Homo sapiens: one gene and its partner. The protein of the gene in region 1 interacts with the protein of each later gene in a biochemical or structural test. Each region holds a gene or a part of one and is shown in the gene's direction. Other genes may lie near its edges. The genes, in order: PARP10 and PARP14.

The links.
Region 2: the proteins of PARP10 (region 1) and PARP14 form a complex in vitro, tested with the Homo sapiens proteins (one study listed by BioGRID).

What each region holds. Positions count from the first base shown.
Region 1 is NC_000008.11:143,976,603-143,983,751, reverse strand, and holds the end of PARP10 (protein mono-ADP-ribosyltransferase PARP10), read left to right. Parts: coding exon 1-585; intron 586-686; coding exon 687-820; intron 821-5,670; coding exon 5,671-5,845; intron 5,846-5,921; coding exon 5,922-6,268; 3' UTR 6,269-6,594; downstream 6,595-7,149. UniProt on the Homo sapiens protein: ADP-ribosyltransferase that mediates mono-ADP-ribosylation of glutamate and aspartate residues on target proteins. In contrast to PARP1 and PARP2, it is not able to mediate poly-ADP-ribosylation.
Region 2 is NC_000003.12:122,711,493-122,718,838, forward strand, and holds part of PARP14 (protein mono-ADP-ribosyltransferase PARP14), read left to right. Parts: intron 1-1,772; coding exon of another isoform or gene 1,773-1,783; exon of another isoform or gene 1,784-1,931; coding exon 1,932-2,081; intron 2,082-2,379; coding exon 2,380-2,442; intron 2,443-2,769; coding exon 2,770-2,937; intron 2,938-6,578; coding exon 6,579-6,785; intron 6,786-6,866; coding exon 6,867-7,346. UniProt on the Homo sapiens protein: ADP-ribosyltransferase that mediates mono-ADP-ribosylation of glutamate residues on target proteins. In contrast to PARP1 and PARP2, it is not able to mediate poly-ADP-ribosylation.

The sequences.
Region 1 (7,149 bases):
TGCCTCGGGAGCTGGAGGAGGAAGGGCCTCAGGAGCAGCCAGAGGAGGAGGTGACCCCAGGGCATGAGGAGGAGGAGCCTGTGGCCCCCAGCACTGTGGCACCCAGGTGGCTGGAGGAGGAGGCCGCTCTGCAGCTGGCCCTCCACCGGTCACTGGAGCCTCAAGGTCAGGTGGCTGAGCAGGAGGAGGCTGCTGCCCTGCGGCAAGCCCTAACCCTCTCCCTGCTGGAGCAGCCCCCGTTGGAGGCAGAAGAGCCCCCAGATGGGGGGACTGATGGCAAGGCCCAGCTGGTGGTGCACTCGGCCTTTGAGCAGGATGTGGAGGAGCTGGACCGGGCGCTCAGGGCTGCCTTGGAGGTCCACGTCCAGGAGGAGACGGTGGGGCCCTGGCGCCGCACACTGCCTGCAGAGCTGCGTGCTCGCCTGGAGCGGTGCCATGGTGTGAGTGTTGCCCTGCGTGGTGACTGCACCATCCTCCGTGGCTTCGGGGCCCACCCTGCCCGTGCTGCCCGCCACTTGGTGGCACTTCTGGCTGGCCCCTGGGATCAGAGTTTGGCCTTTCCCTTGGCAGCTTCAGGCCCTACCTGTGAGTCTACCTCCTGGACTGAGGGACGGTGGGGTGGGCTGGTTAGCAGGGGCTAGTGCCCCAGGCATGGCTCTGACCCCCCGCTTTTCCCCATGCATCAGTGGCGGGGCAGACGCTGAAGGGGCCCTGGAACAACCTGGAGCGTCTGGCAGAGAACACCGGGGAGTTCCAGGAGGTGGTGCGGGCCTTCTACGACACCCTGGACGCTGCCCGCAGCAGCATCCGCGTCGTTCGTGTGAGTCCATGCCCTGTCTCTCTGGCCTCATGGCGTCCTGGGCTCTTGCACCATTAGCGCCTTGCCAAGTCTGTGGCCTGTCCCTCTCGCCTACATCAAGGTCAGCTGACCAGGAGCTGACAGGCTCCCAGCCCTGTTCTCTGCCCAGAGGGCGTTCCCAAAGTGGGTAGGGAAACAGGAGGGAACAGAGTGGGGGCCTTGGGATCTGATAGGCCTGAGTGAGGGTCCCCACTCTGCCACTCGTGGCTGGGTCAGCAGGGACTATGGGACCAGCTCCAGGCCTCAGTTTCCTTATTTGGAGCATGGGGCGGTGATGCCATCTTGTGGTCATTTTGAGGATTACTCGCTCCACAGATGCGTCCCTTGTGCTGTTCTGGGCGCTCTTCTGCCTCCACAGAAAGGCCCGGGCTCGCTGCGGTCACTGTGCTGATGACACTGCGCGGGGCACTCTCTTTTTTGAGACGGCATCTCGCTGTGTCTCCTGGGCTGGAGTGCAGTGGCACGATCTCGGCTCACGGCAAGCTCCGCCTCCCGGGTTCACGCCATTCTCCTGCCTCAGCCTCCCAAGTAGCTGGGACTACAGGCGCCTGCCACCACGCCCGGCTAATTTTTTAAAAAATATTTTTAGTGGAGACGGGGTTTCACCATGTTAGCCAGGATGGTCTCGATCTACTGACCTCGTGATCCGCCCGCCTCGGCCTCCCAAAGTGCTGGGATTACAGGCGTGAGCCACCGCGCCCGGCCTTGCACGGGGCACTCTCAACTCTTGATGCCCAAAGTTGTGCGTGGGGCCAGCAGCATCACCCTCCACCAGGAGCTGGTCAGAAATGCAAAAAGAACCTCTGGCTGTCCCCAGACCTCACCACCATCATCACCACCATCACACCATCACCATGACCCTCACCACCATCATCACCACCATCATCACCATCACCCCATCACCATCACCACCACCATCACACCATCACCATGACCCTCACCACTCACTGTCATCACCACCACCATCACCATCACCATCATCACCACCACCTTCACCACTCACTGTCGTCACCACCATCATCACCACCACCTTCACCACTCACTGTCGTCACCACCATCATCACCACCACCTTCACCACTCACTGTCGTCACCACCATCATCACCACCACCTTCACCACTCACTGTCGTCACCACCATCATCACCATCACCTTCACCACTCACTGTCGTCACCACCATCATCACCACCACCTTCACCACTCACTGTCGTCACCACCATCATCACCACCACCTTCACCACTCACTGTCGTCACCACCATCATCACCATCACCTTCACCACTCACTGTCGTCACCACCATCATCACCACCACCTTCACCACTCACTGTCGTCACCACCATCATCACCATCACCTTCACCACTCACTGTCGTCACCACCATCACCACCACCTTCACCACTCACTGTCGTCACCACCATCATCACCACCACCTTCACCACTCACTGTCGTCACCACCATCATCACCACCACCTTCACCACTCACTGTCGTCACCACCATCATCACCATCACCTTCACCACTCACTGTCGTCACCACCATCATCACCATCACCTTCACCACTCACTGTCGTCACCACCATCACCACCACCACTACCACCACCACCGTGGCCACCATCATCACCACCATTAGCATCACCACTGTCACCGTCAGCTTCACCAACACACCGTCACCGCTCACCGCCACCAGGATCACCACCACCCAGACGCACTGACCTCATATCCTGGTGGTTTTGTTAATTATACGTACTTGGTTCTTCCGGTGAGCACCTTGATGACTTTAAATGGTATGCTTGAATTTAGTGAGCACCTTGATGACTTTAAATGGTATGCTTGAATTTTTTTTTTTCACTTGACAGCTTTAGAGATTGTTTCTTGCCTTCCCGCATGGAAGATGAGGAGAATGGGCCTCGCTTCTCTCTCTTTTGCCTCCTCCCTCATCTTCCATCTCAATTTGGTCAGTTACATTATTTTTATTATGTCGTAAAGGTTTCTGTAACTATCACAAAGCCTCCATGCGTGGGCCATAGGTTGGTAGACATACTATAATAATGAAAAAACATTTACCACTGAGCCATAGAAAGAGAAGTGAAATCCTAGTTATTAAAATTCTGTTCTGTAAAAAAGATGTTCTAGGATTCAAGGCTAATGGCTTTTCTTTTTTTGACTTTCTTCATTTTTTCCAGGCCATTCTTGACCACCGGGTTACTCAGTACCCCGCTTGTCACCTTTTGGCACAGACTCTTTTGTTTAGTGGGAGTATCTCCTTGAGTGGGTGCTAAACATATTTGACTTTTAAATTTACGTATATGTGAACATATATGTTTAAACATATACATTTATATATTAATATATACATTTATATATATAATTTTTTTGAGACAGTGTCTCTCTCTGTTGCCCAGGCTAGAGTGCAGTGGCATGATCTCGGCTCACTGCAACCTCCACCTCTTGGGTTCAAGTGATTCTGCCTCAGCCTCCCAAGTAGCTGGGATTACAGGCACACACCACCACACCCAGCTACTTTTTGTATTTTTAGTAGAGATGGTTTTTTTTTTTTTTTTTTTTTTTTTTTTTTTTGAGACGGAATCTCACTCAGTAGCCCAGGCTGGAGTGCAGTGGTGCAATCTCAGCTCACTGCAAGCTCTGCCTCCCGGGTTCACGCCATTCTCCTGCCTCAGCCTCCTGAGTAGCTGGGACTACAGGCGCCTGCCACCACGCCCAGCTTATTTTTGTATTTTTATTAGAGACGGGGTTTCACCATGTTAGCCAGGATGGTCTCAATCTCCTGACCTCATGATCTGCCCACCTCGGCCTCCCAAAGTGCTGGGATTACAGGCGTGAGCCACCGCGCCCGGCTGAGACGGGTTTTTTTTTTTTTTTTTTTTGAGACGGAGTCTCGCTCTGTCACTCAGGCTGGAGTGCAGTGGCACGATGTCGGCTCACTGCAAGCTCCGCCTCCTGCGTTCACGCCATTCTCCTGCCTCAGCCTCCTGAGTAGCTGTGACTACAGGCGCCCGCCACCGCGCCCGGCTAAATTTTGTATTTTTAATAGAGACGGGGTTTCACCATGGTCTCGATCTCCCGACCTCGTGATCCGCCCACCTCGGCCTCCCAAAGTGCTGGGATTACAGGCGTGAGCCACCATGCCCAGCGAGACGGGGTTTTGCCATGTTGGTCAGGCTGGTCTCGAACTCCTGACCTCAAGTGATCCACCCACCTTGGCCTCCCAAAGTGCCAGGATTACAGGCGTGAGCCACTGCACCCGGCCGACTTTTAAATTTATATTGCCCTTTACAATTAGAGGTATTTTGCAACTGTAATTTGATGTTGGTATGAACTTCCATGTTCTCGTGTGTCCTAATATGCCCTTATTTGTCCTCATTCTTCATTACTAGTTTGGCTGGATATAGTGTTCAGGTTCAAAATATGTTTTTCCTCAGATATTTGAAGACATTGCTGTTTTTCTTCATTCTTAAAAGAATATTTTTCTTGGAAAGTTAAAAAATATCCCCCCATGGTTTCTTAGCATCTGGTGTCGGTAATGAGAGACCCAATGTGAGAAGGTGAGACTTCTTCCGGTTTGCATATTGACCTTGTTGTGTGTGTGTGTAAACTTGCAGGGTTGGCCAGCTGCGGTGGCTCACGCCTGTAATCCCAGCACTTTGGGAGGCTGAGGCGGGCGGATCACGAGGTCAGGAGATCGAGACCATCCTGGCTAACACAGTGAAACCCCTTCTCTACTAAAAATACAAAAAAGATAGCCGGGCGCGGTGGCAGGTGCCTGTAGTCCCAGCTATTCGGGAGGCTGAGGCAGGAGAATGGCGTGAACCCGGGAGGCGGAGCTTGCAGTGAGCCGAGATCGTGCCACTGCACTCCAGCCTGGGCGACACAGCCAGACTCCCTCTCAAAGAAAAAAAAAAAAAAAAACTTGCAGGGTTTTCTTTCACTCTGAAGGTTGAGGTTTCCTGGCACGTGGGTGCCAGGGGCGTTGTCTTTCCTCATTGTCCTTCTTGGCATTTCACGGATCTTGTGTATCTGAAGATGTTCCTTCAGCTCAGGGAAGCGTCTTCCCTGTGTGTGCTGGAGCTCCGGCCGGTGGAGCTCCTGCTATGCCGGCTCAGACCTCAGGCCCCCTCACCTGCTCCCTCGGAGTTCCTTTCTCTTCCGTTAGCTTCTCACTCTGCATCAGTTCCTGAACTCCATCTAGAACGCTAGCTGGGTCTTCAGTTTGAACCACTTCCTCATTTGGCTCACCCCCTCTAGATTTAGCTCAGCGTCCCTTTCTGAATGCAGGAGCACTCTGGTTTTCAGACTAGTTCCTTTTCATAGCAGCTAGTTTTGTTTAATAGACATGGTGTTCTTTTGCAACTCTCTGAAGAAACTATTTAAAATTTCTTTAAAAGTGTTTCCCAGGGCTGTCAGGTTGGTCACCTGAGGCCTTCTCTCCCACCTGGGTCTTTCAGCACTGAGAGGTCTGTGGCATCTCCTCGTGTTGGAGTCAAGTCCTGTAGGCAGCATAGGGCCCTGGCTCAGCTTTTCTCTGCAGAGGCCTCGCTTGAGTGGGTGGGGTTTGCCCGCCCGCAGACCTCCACGGGAGGGGGAGGGGTCAGGCCTCCCCAGCGGCCCTCTGAAGTCACTTGCTTCACGGAGGTGTTACTGTCTGCTGCTGGACAGAGCATGATGGGGGCTGCAAGGGCTCCCTCAAACCCTGGACTCCTCCAACAGAGGGCTCCTGGTTGCCAGGCTCAGCTCTGCCCTGCGTCGGCCCCAGGGCGTAGGGAGGGTGTTTAATCCTGGCCCGGGCCTTCCCCGCAGGTGGAGCGCGTGTCGCACCCGCTGCTGCAGCAGCAGTATGAGCTGTACCGGGAGCGCCTGCTGCAGCGATGCGAGCGGCGCCCGGTGGAGCAGGTGCTGTACCACGGCACGACGGCACCGGCAGTGCCTGACATCTGCGCCCACGGCTTCAACCGCAGCTTCTGCGGCCGCAACGGTGAGGCCTGAGCCGGGCAGGGGCGGGGGCTCTGCGCACCCCGACCACCCTGACCTTGCCCCGTCTCGCCCTGCAGCCACGGTCTACGGGAAGGGCGTGTATTTCGCCAGGCGCGCCTCCCTGTCGGTGCAGGACCGCTACTCGCCCCCCAACGCCGATGGCCATAAGGCGGTGTTCGTGGCACGGGTGCTGACTGGCGACTACGGGCAGGGCCGCCGCGGTCTGCGGGCGCCCCCTCTGCGGGGTCCTGGCCACGTGCTCCTGCGCTACGACAGCGCCGTGGACTGCATCTGCCAGCCCAGCATCTTCGTCATCTTCCACGACACCCAGGCGCTGCCCACCCACCTCATCACCTGCGAGCACGTGCCCCGCGCTTCCCCCGACGACCCCTCTGGGCTCCCGGGCCGCTCCCCAGACACTTAACCGAAGGGGCCACCCTCTGGCCTCCTGCTTCCCAGGCTCCCAGCTCCGCACAGGCTGATGCTCCCCGCCCCCAACTGTGGCCGCCTGAGCTGTCCCCGGGGACGCCCCTGCCTCCCTCTGCGGGCTCCAGAAGGCGGTGTGGGGGATGGCGGTCAGCAGCGGCCGAGGGGGGCCGGGCTAGGTCCCAGCCTGGGCCGACCCCACCACCAGGGGTCAGCAGAGCCCAGGAGGCGACACCGCCCGCCCGCCGCTCCCAGACCTCGCCCGAGTCGGCTCTGTTGTTTGAATAAACGTGAACGTGAACCCAGGCGGAAGGGACCCGGGAACTCTGACTGCGACCTCTGTTTGGGGAGTGGGGATCTCCGCGGCCCAGGGGCGGGATCTGCTGCTTCCGAGGAGGCGTCGGGGTGCGGGGCGGGGCCCGGAGCTCACCGGGGCGAGCGCACGACGTTCCCGTGTCGCGCACGCCGGCGCAGACAGCGTCTCCTTGACTACCGGCCCGCCCCGTGCGCCGGGGGCTCAGGTGTGCGCCGCTGCCCTGGCCGAATCGCCCGCCCGGGCCCCAGCCCCGCCGCTCCCGAGATCTCGGCGGCCCCGCGCAGACACGGGCGCCCGATCTCGCTGGCAGCGTTCGCTCGCTCTCGGCCGGGCCCGCGCGGCGCAGCTCTGGGTGGGGGCCGGGGCGGGGCTCGGGGCTCGCCCCGCCTGCGCCGCCTCCGCCGCTCTCCCGGCCCGAGCAGTCTGGCTGCGGCGGCAGAGCTGAAGTGAGCGGAGCCACCAGGCATGTATGACCGCGGCCAGGATGGAGAGGCGCGCCGCGTGCGGGCGCTGCGGGGTGGGGGTCGGGGGGCGGTCTCCGGCCGCAGGCCACACGGAACTAG
Region 2 (7,346 bases), on another chromosome or scaffold:
ATTTTGTCAAAGATTTTTGCATCTGTGTTCATCAGGGATATTGGTCTGTAGTTTTTTTTTGTTGTATCCTTTCTTGGATTTATTATTAGTTTAATACTAGCTTTTAGACTGATTTAGGGAGGATTTCTTCTTTCTCTATCTTTTGGAATAGTTTCAGTAGGATTGGTACCAATTCTTTGAATGTCTGGTAGAATTCAGCTGTGAATCCACCTGGTCTGGGACTTTTTTGTTGTTGGCAATTTTTTTTAATTACTAGTTCAGTCTTGCTGCTTGTTATTGGTCTGTTCAAGGTTTCTGTTTCTTTCTGATTTAACCTAGGAGGGTTGTATGTTTCCAGGAATTTATCCATTTCCTCTAGAGTTTCTAGTTTGTGCATGTAAAGGTGTTCATAGCAGCCTTGAATGATCTTTTGTATTTCTGAGGCATTGATTGTAATGTCTCCAGTTTCATTTCTAATTGAGCTTATTTGGATCTTCTCTCTTCTTTTCTTGGTTAATCTCACTAATGGTCTATGAATTTTCTTTATCTTTTCAAAGAACCAGCTTTTTGTTTCATTTTTATCTTTTTTTGTTTGTTTGTTTGAGGTCTTTTTAAAATAGTTTCTATTTCTCTGCAGAGACATCCTATTTTTCCATTCATTCCACATCATTTCCATCCATTCAAATGTGTTTACTTTGACCTCATGGATCATAGTTATAGTAGATGCTTTAAAGTCTTCTATAATTCACATCTTTTTGGGATTCACATCTTTTTTTTTTTTTTTCTTTTTTCTATGGAGTCTTGCTCTGTTGCCCAGTCTGGAGTGCAGTGGTGCAATCTTGGCTCACTGCAACCTCCGCCTCCCGGGTTCAAGTGATTTCCTTGCTCAGCCTCCCAAATAGCTGGGATTACAGGCCTGTGCCACCACGCCCAGCTAAGTTTTGTATTTTTCTTTTAGCAGAGAGAAGGTTTTACCATGTTGGACAGGCTTGTCTTGAACTCCTGACCTCAAGTGATCCACCTGCCTCGGCCTCCCAAAGTGCTGGAATTACAGGCATGAGCCACCATGCCTGGCCAGGATTGACATCTTTTTTTTTTTGAGACAGAGTCTCACTCTGTCACTCAAGCTGGAGTGCAGTGGCACAATCTCAACTCACTGCAGCCTCAACCTCTGGGGGCTCAGGTGATCCTCCTACCTCAGCCTCCCAAGTAGCTGGGACTACAGTTGTGCACCACCATCCCAGCTAATATTTGTATTATTTGTAGAGATGGGGTTTCACCATGTTGTTCAGGCTGATCTCGAACTCCTGGACTCAAGTGATCCACCCACCTCGGCCTCCCAAAGTGCTGGGATTGCAGACATGAGCCATTGTGTCTGGCTGGATTGACAGCTTTTGATTTTCTTTATCCTTAAGGGTTGATCAAATTTTCCTGGTTCTTTATATAACAAGCAATTTTGGAATACAGACTTGACATTTTAAATATTATGTTGTGAGACTAGGGCCACCCTTGGGTCAAAGCTGGGAGAGAAAAGAGGAAAAATTTTAAAACAGAACAAAATGGAAAACTGCCCCACTTAGCAGATTGCTTCTGCAAGTTTTGGCACCTTTCTTCAATCTGTCTGCTGTTATTGTAACTTTTCAGAGCTCTTGGGTGGTGGCTTTTTGTATTTGTCCTGTTTTTAGTTGTAATCAACGGGAGAGATAGGCTATAGTACGCTAACTTCACCTTGGTCAGCACCAGAGTTCATGTTTGATATGGATTCTATGTTCTAATTCTTTTTTCTTAAACAGATCATCACTGAGGCTGAGGAGCAGGGCCAGGTTAAAGACCAGAGGTCACAGAAAGAGAGGGAGAGGGAAGACATCCAAGAGGGTCCCATGTGAGCAGGATACCCAAGTCATTCTTGCTGTGGCTGACTCGGTTATTGACTTTACTTCTTTTCTTTTCAGGTTTTTATGGGACTGTTTCTAGCCCTGATTCAGGTGTGTATGAAATGAAGATTGGCTCCATCATCTTCCAGGTGGCTTCTGGAGATATCACGAAAGAAGAGGCAGATGTGATTGTAAATTCAACATCAAACTCATTCAATCTCAAAGCAGGTACTTGTACAATTTTGATGAGTGCAATAGTTAATGGTAGATGCTATGAAGGAGGGTTTCTATAGCCAAACTGGTTTTTAGAACTTTGGCTTGTTAATTAATAACTTTTAAATTATGCTGACAGGGTTTTCCATAATTAATAATGTTTATTTTATGAAGTTTTCTTCTTTGTCATCAGCAATACCCAATTAGAGGATTCCTCAGATGATGGAGAATGCATTCAGATAATCCTTCTGATCCAAATATACCATAGTGGTTTTTTACTCATGTTTGTTATCATCTTGATTTTCTCATGTAGGGGTCTCCAAAGCAATTTTAGAATGTGCTGGACAAAATGTAGAAAGGGAATGTTCTCAGCAAGGTAAGGCATATTCTATTTTTTGGTCCTAAGTTGTAATTGTATGGGAGGCTGTGGAGAGGCTGAGAAAAGTCTTAGGGTTGGGGAGACAACACTCTAATTTTAAAATGATACATTTTACTAAAGAATTCCAATCACAGACACTTAGAAGTGAAAAGTAATCTCACAGTTAAAAGTAAAGTTAAGTCATAGCATTCCATCAAAGATAGTATTTCAGGAGTTTTTTTTTTTTCACAAAATGCTTACTTGCCAAGTTATACATTTTGCTTTCTAAACAAATGACGGGTTCAACTTCTACTAATTTTGCATCTTTTTGTCTGTGTTTCCCAGCTCAGCAGCGCAAAAATGATTATATAATCACCGGAGGTGGATTTTTGAGGTGCAAGAATATCATTCATGTAATTGGTGGAAATGATGTCAAGAGTTCAGTTTCCTCTGTTTTGCAGGAGTGTGAAAAAAAAAATTACTCATCCATTTGCCTCCCAGCCATTGGGACAGGTTCGTAGCCTCTGGCTGTCAAGGCTAAATCCCAAGCCATCTACTTTCCCTTTCATTTGGAGCTGAGTGTGAATGCGGTCAGTGCTGAGTCTGACCCAGGGCAGCAACCATTAAGCTAGGAGTGGACAGCTTCCTCCCCATAAGACAACTCCCAAGGGAATGACAAAGCCTGTGGATTGTTTGAGTAAAAGAGGGACAAAATGCAGGAGACTGAAGAGAGTGTTAGAATGTTAGAGAGGCAGAAAGAAGGGAAGGGAAAATAAGGAGGAGAAGAGAAGGGAGAGAGTGGAAAGGCCATCCCTCATTCTCTTTCCTCAGTTACTTTCCCTTTTTCCATTCCCTACATATTCTCCATTATGCAGTCCTTAGCTTCCTCCTCTTTCCCCTCTCCATGGAGAATATTAGTACAACAACTTCCACCTCACTCTAGCTGATTCCCAGAGGAATATTACCAGGCTTCAGCTCAACAGTCAGCTGTGTCACTTGGCCTCAGGGCATTTCTGTGTAGAAGCTTCTCAGTCACCAGAACCTAGTGGGTCAGAAACTCAACTCTCCACTTTCCTCTTTTCAGCCTACTTGCTTCTTTGATTTTCTTCTTTTCCTAAAACTAGGTAATGATAGCGTGATTTTTCATATATAAGGATGGCGCTCTGGATTTATCATTAATTAGGTGGTTTTTTTTTTTTAATTATACTGGGGTACATGGGCAGAATGTGCAGTTTTGTTGCACAGGTGTTCTTTGAGCTCTTTAGGAATCCCTGCTTGGTCTCCTTCAGAGAGCTGGTCAGGGGAGGCATGCATTCTTAGGCTTGAAGTCAACGGAGCTGCCTTGTTCCAGTGCGAGAATAGTCAGCATCGGATCTGTCATTCTGTTGCTCGGGAATCTAAGTTTGAATCTCTTATGCTGGCATTCTAGGCTTTCCAAAAGGTTATCCTCAATAAACTTAACCATCCTTGTCAATTTCTGGGCCTTCTTCTAACCCTCTGACCCATATCTGTAATTCTGTACCATTTCTTATAATGTTCCGAGATGGAATTCTATGTCTATTTTACAACTTTTCTATTTCTAAAAGTATAATTTTTGATCCCTTTGTTTTCATTCCCCTTAGAGTATCATCTATTCCTAGCAGATTAGCCAACATTTCTCCTATCTCTCTCTACCAGTCATCTATCTATCTATCTATCTATCTATCTATCTATCTATCTATCTATCTATCTATCTATCGATCTGTCTATCTATCTCTATCATCTCTCTACTGACTTATCTTTTATGGACACCCACCAATGACTCCTCAGTCTCTGTCTCCATCTGTTTTTTTCTCTGAGCTCTAGTCTTGGGTTTCCACCTTCAGTTGATTTGGGCCAAGAAAGCAAGCAGCTTAGGGGTGCCACAGACCTTCCCAAAGGAGTCCCTGGTAGAGTCAAAAGAAGAAACAAAGAAAGAAGGTAGGTTTCGTTTTGTATAAATATGTACACATTTGAGCATTTCTGGACTCAATTCTGGACTCAACAACAAATCCTGTTGTTTCTTCCACTGACCTGGTTGCATTGCTGGTCAGCACAAATAAATCAGGGTTAGTGGGTTATCCTTGCATGTCCTCTTTACCTATCTTTATCACCACCTGAGCTGGTTCTGAGACTGATAGATGTAGAAGCTTTCTCTTTTAGTGGTGTATATGAGTTGAATTAAGACTGTGATCAAGACAGCCTCTGGCAGTTAAAGGAGCCTCCTCTCTGTTCCTTAAAGACACCTGCATAAGAGGAGAGATTAGGTGGTTAGCAATACCTGTGATCACCTCAAGCTCAACGCAGACTCCAAACTCTCATTCCTTGTCATCTCCCCAAACCTGCCCTTCCTCTTATATCCCCAATCACGTGAAAAACATCACTTTCCATCTAGAGTCCTTGACTCTACCCTCTTCGTCACTCCGATCTTCATTAGCTTAGGAATTATTTGATTGAATATTTACTGAGTGCCTGCATCTGCAAGGCACCATGTTTAGGCTCTGGAGATAGAAAGATAACTAAGAAAAGGATCCAGTTCACAAGGAGCACTGAGCCCAGTGTGAGAGACAGGCATGCAAACAAACAACTGCAATGCAACGTGAACCATGATATAGTGAAGGTATGTGTATGGCAAAAGACAGAGAGGGAAAGGTGAAGGACAAACCCAGCTGGTCCCTAGGTACTCCTGACTTTACTTCCAAAATAGCTCCTCAATCCCTATTCTTCATTCTGGCCTCCTCTTTTTGTTCAGCTCTTGTCTTTTGACTAAGCTTTTATTACAGCGTCCTAACTAGACCTGGGCTCCCCGCTCCATGCTTCCTCCATACCCCTCCAGACTTAACTTCCTCAAAACTAGGTCTGTTCTGCATACGTGCCAGGCTGAACATATACCCATTACATAGTTCCATCTGGCATAGCCTTTCCCTCAATTTTCCATATTTCACCTGTTGATCACCTGTTCATCCCCGCATATCACATCATCTGTGTTCTAGCAAGTGCCTAGTGAGTACCTAGCCAGTGATAGGACATAGCAGATGTTTCTTGAAAGTGAATGAATGTAACTGAATGTGTCCATATAAACTCTTCAAAATACCATGGGAAAATTACAGCTTTGCAAAAGAGAATTTCCCTCGTTCTCTGATCATCTGATTTAAAAAGATTTGAACAACCCCCCTTGGTTAATTTTATGTGGGGTTGTCTACATTCCCACAATTGTCAGCATAGCCAAGTCAAAGAAGCCTACTCTTCTTCTGCAATAGTGGTGGGTACCATCAACAACAATTAGCCAGGTGGGCTCTTAGTCTGTCACATCAGCTTGGCCAAGGAACTTTTACATTGCCCATCATGTGACTTTGCCAGCTGTTATTCACATGGGACTGTTCCCCCAGCTGGAAAGGGACTTTTCATGATCTTACCTAGGCTGTTGCTTTCATGGCTTGAGAAGGAGGATATGGAGTATGCTGAAAACAGGAAACGCTCTGCTTCAGGTGGCTACCTTGAATCCTGCTGGTCAGCTAAAATCTCACTGAGTGTGGAGGGAAAGGCTTCTTGGAGGCTTATAGATAACTTGTGTCTGAAAAATTATAGATTATAACAAATAGCCTGTAGCACTGGGTGTCTTACTAAATTTTGCTTAGTTCAAATTAGGTTCCCAGAGATATCTGGGAGAATAAGGATACATACATAAAATCAAGTGATGACTGATCCTAAAAAAGATTTTCATCTTTAAAAAGTATTTTATGTCAACATATATTAGCATCTGCTTTTTATGAAATTTCAAGGACACTAGCGAGCTAAGTAGAAAAGCTACTTGTGCTCTGTAATAGGAGAGGAGGAACACAATGAGCTGGGATCAGTTGAATAGAGTAGATATGATTGTCAGACACCAAAAGTCAGATTTCTGGGTCCTTTGTTCACTGCTAGGCTGTGGGCTTCCTGACATCCTGGAACAAAAACACTTCATTGCATCTAGGACTTCAAAAGTGTTTGCTGATGCTTTGTTAGAAAATTCCACAATGATGAAAGAATTGAGGAGTGGGCATTTATTCTCTGAGCATTGGAAACCCTAATTTATTCCTCAGCCTTCCACTTGGGGCTTTTTTGTCCTTCAGCAATTTTATTATTTGCTTTTCCAGGAAATGCCAAACAACACCCAGATAAGGTTGCTGAAGCCATAATTGATGCCATTGAAGACTTTGTCCAGAAAGGATCAGCCCAGTCTGTGAAAAAAGTTAAAGTTGTTATCTTTCTGCCTCAAGTACTGGATGTGTTTTATGCCAACATGAAGAAAAGAGAAGGGACTCAGCTTTCTTCCCAACAGTCTGTGATGTCTAAACTTGCATGTGAGTTCTTTGTTTTTATGAAATGCATGTTCATAACGTTGATGTCACATGTGAAATACCTAATCTTCCTTTTCTTTTTAGCATTTTTGGGCTTTTCAAAGCAATCTCCCCAAAAAAAGAATCATTTGGTTTTGGAAAAGAAAACAGAATCAGCAACTTTTCGGGTGTGTGGTGAAAATGTCACGTGTGTGGAATATGCTATCTCCTGGCTACAAGACCTGATTGAAAAAGAACAGTGTCCTTACACCAGTGAAGATGAGTGCATCAAAGACTTTGATGAAAAGGAGTATCAGGAGTTGAATGAGCTGCAGAAGAAGTTAAATATTAACATTTCCCTGGACCATAAGAGACCTTTGATTAAGGTTTTGGGAATTAGCAGAGATGTGATGCAGGCTAGAGATGAAATTGAGGCGATGATCAAGAGAGTTCGATTGGCCAAAGAACAGGAATCCCGGGCAGATTGTATCAGTGAGTTTATAGAATGGCAGTATAATGACAATAACACTTCTCATTGTTTTAACAAAATGACCAATCTGAAATTAGAGGATGCAAGGAGAGAAA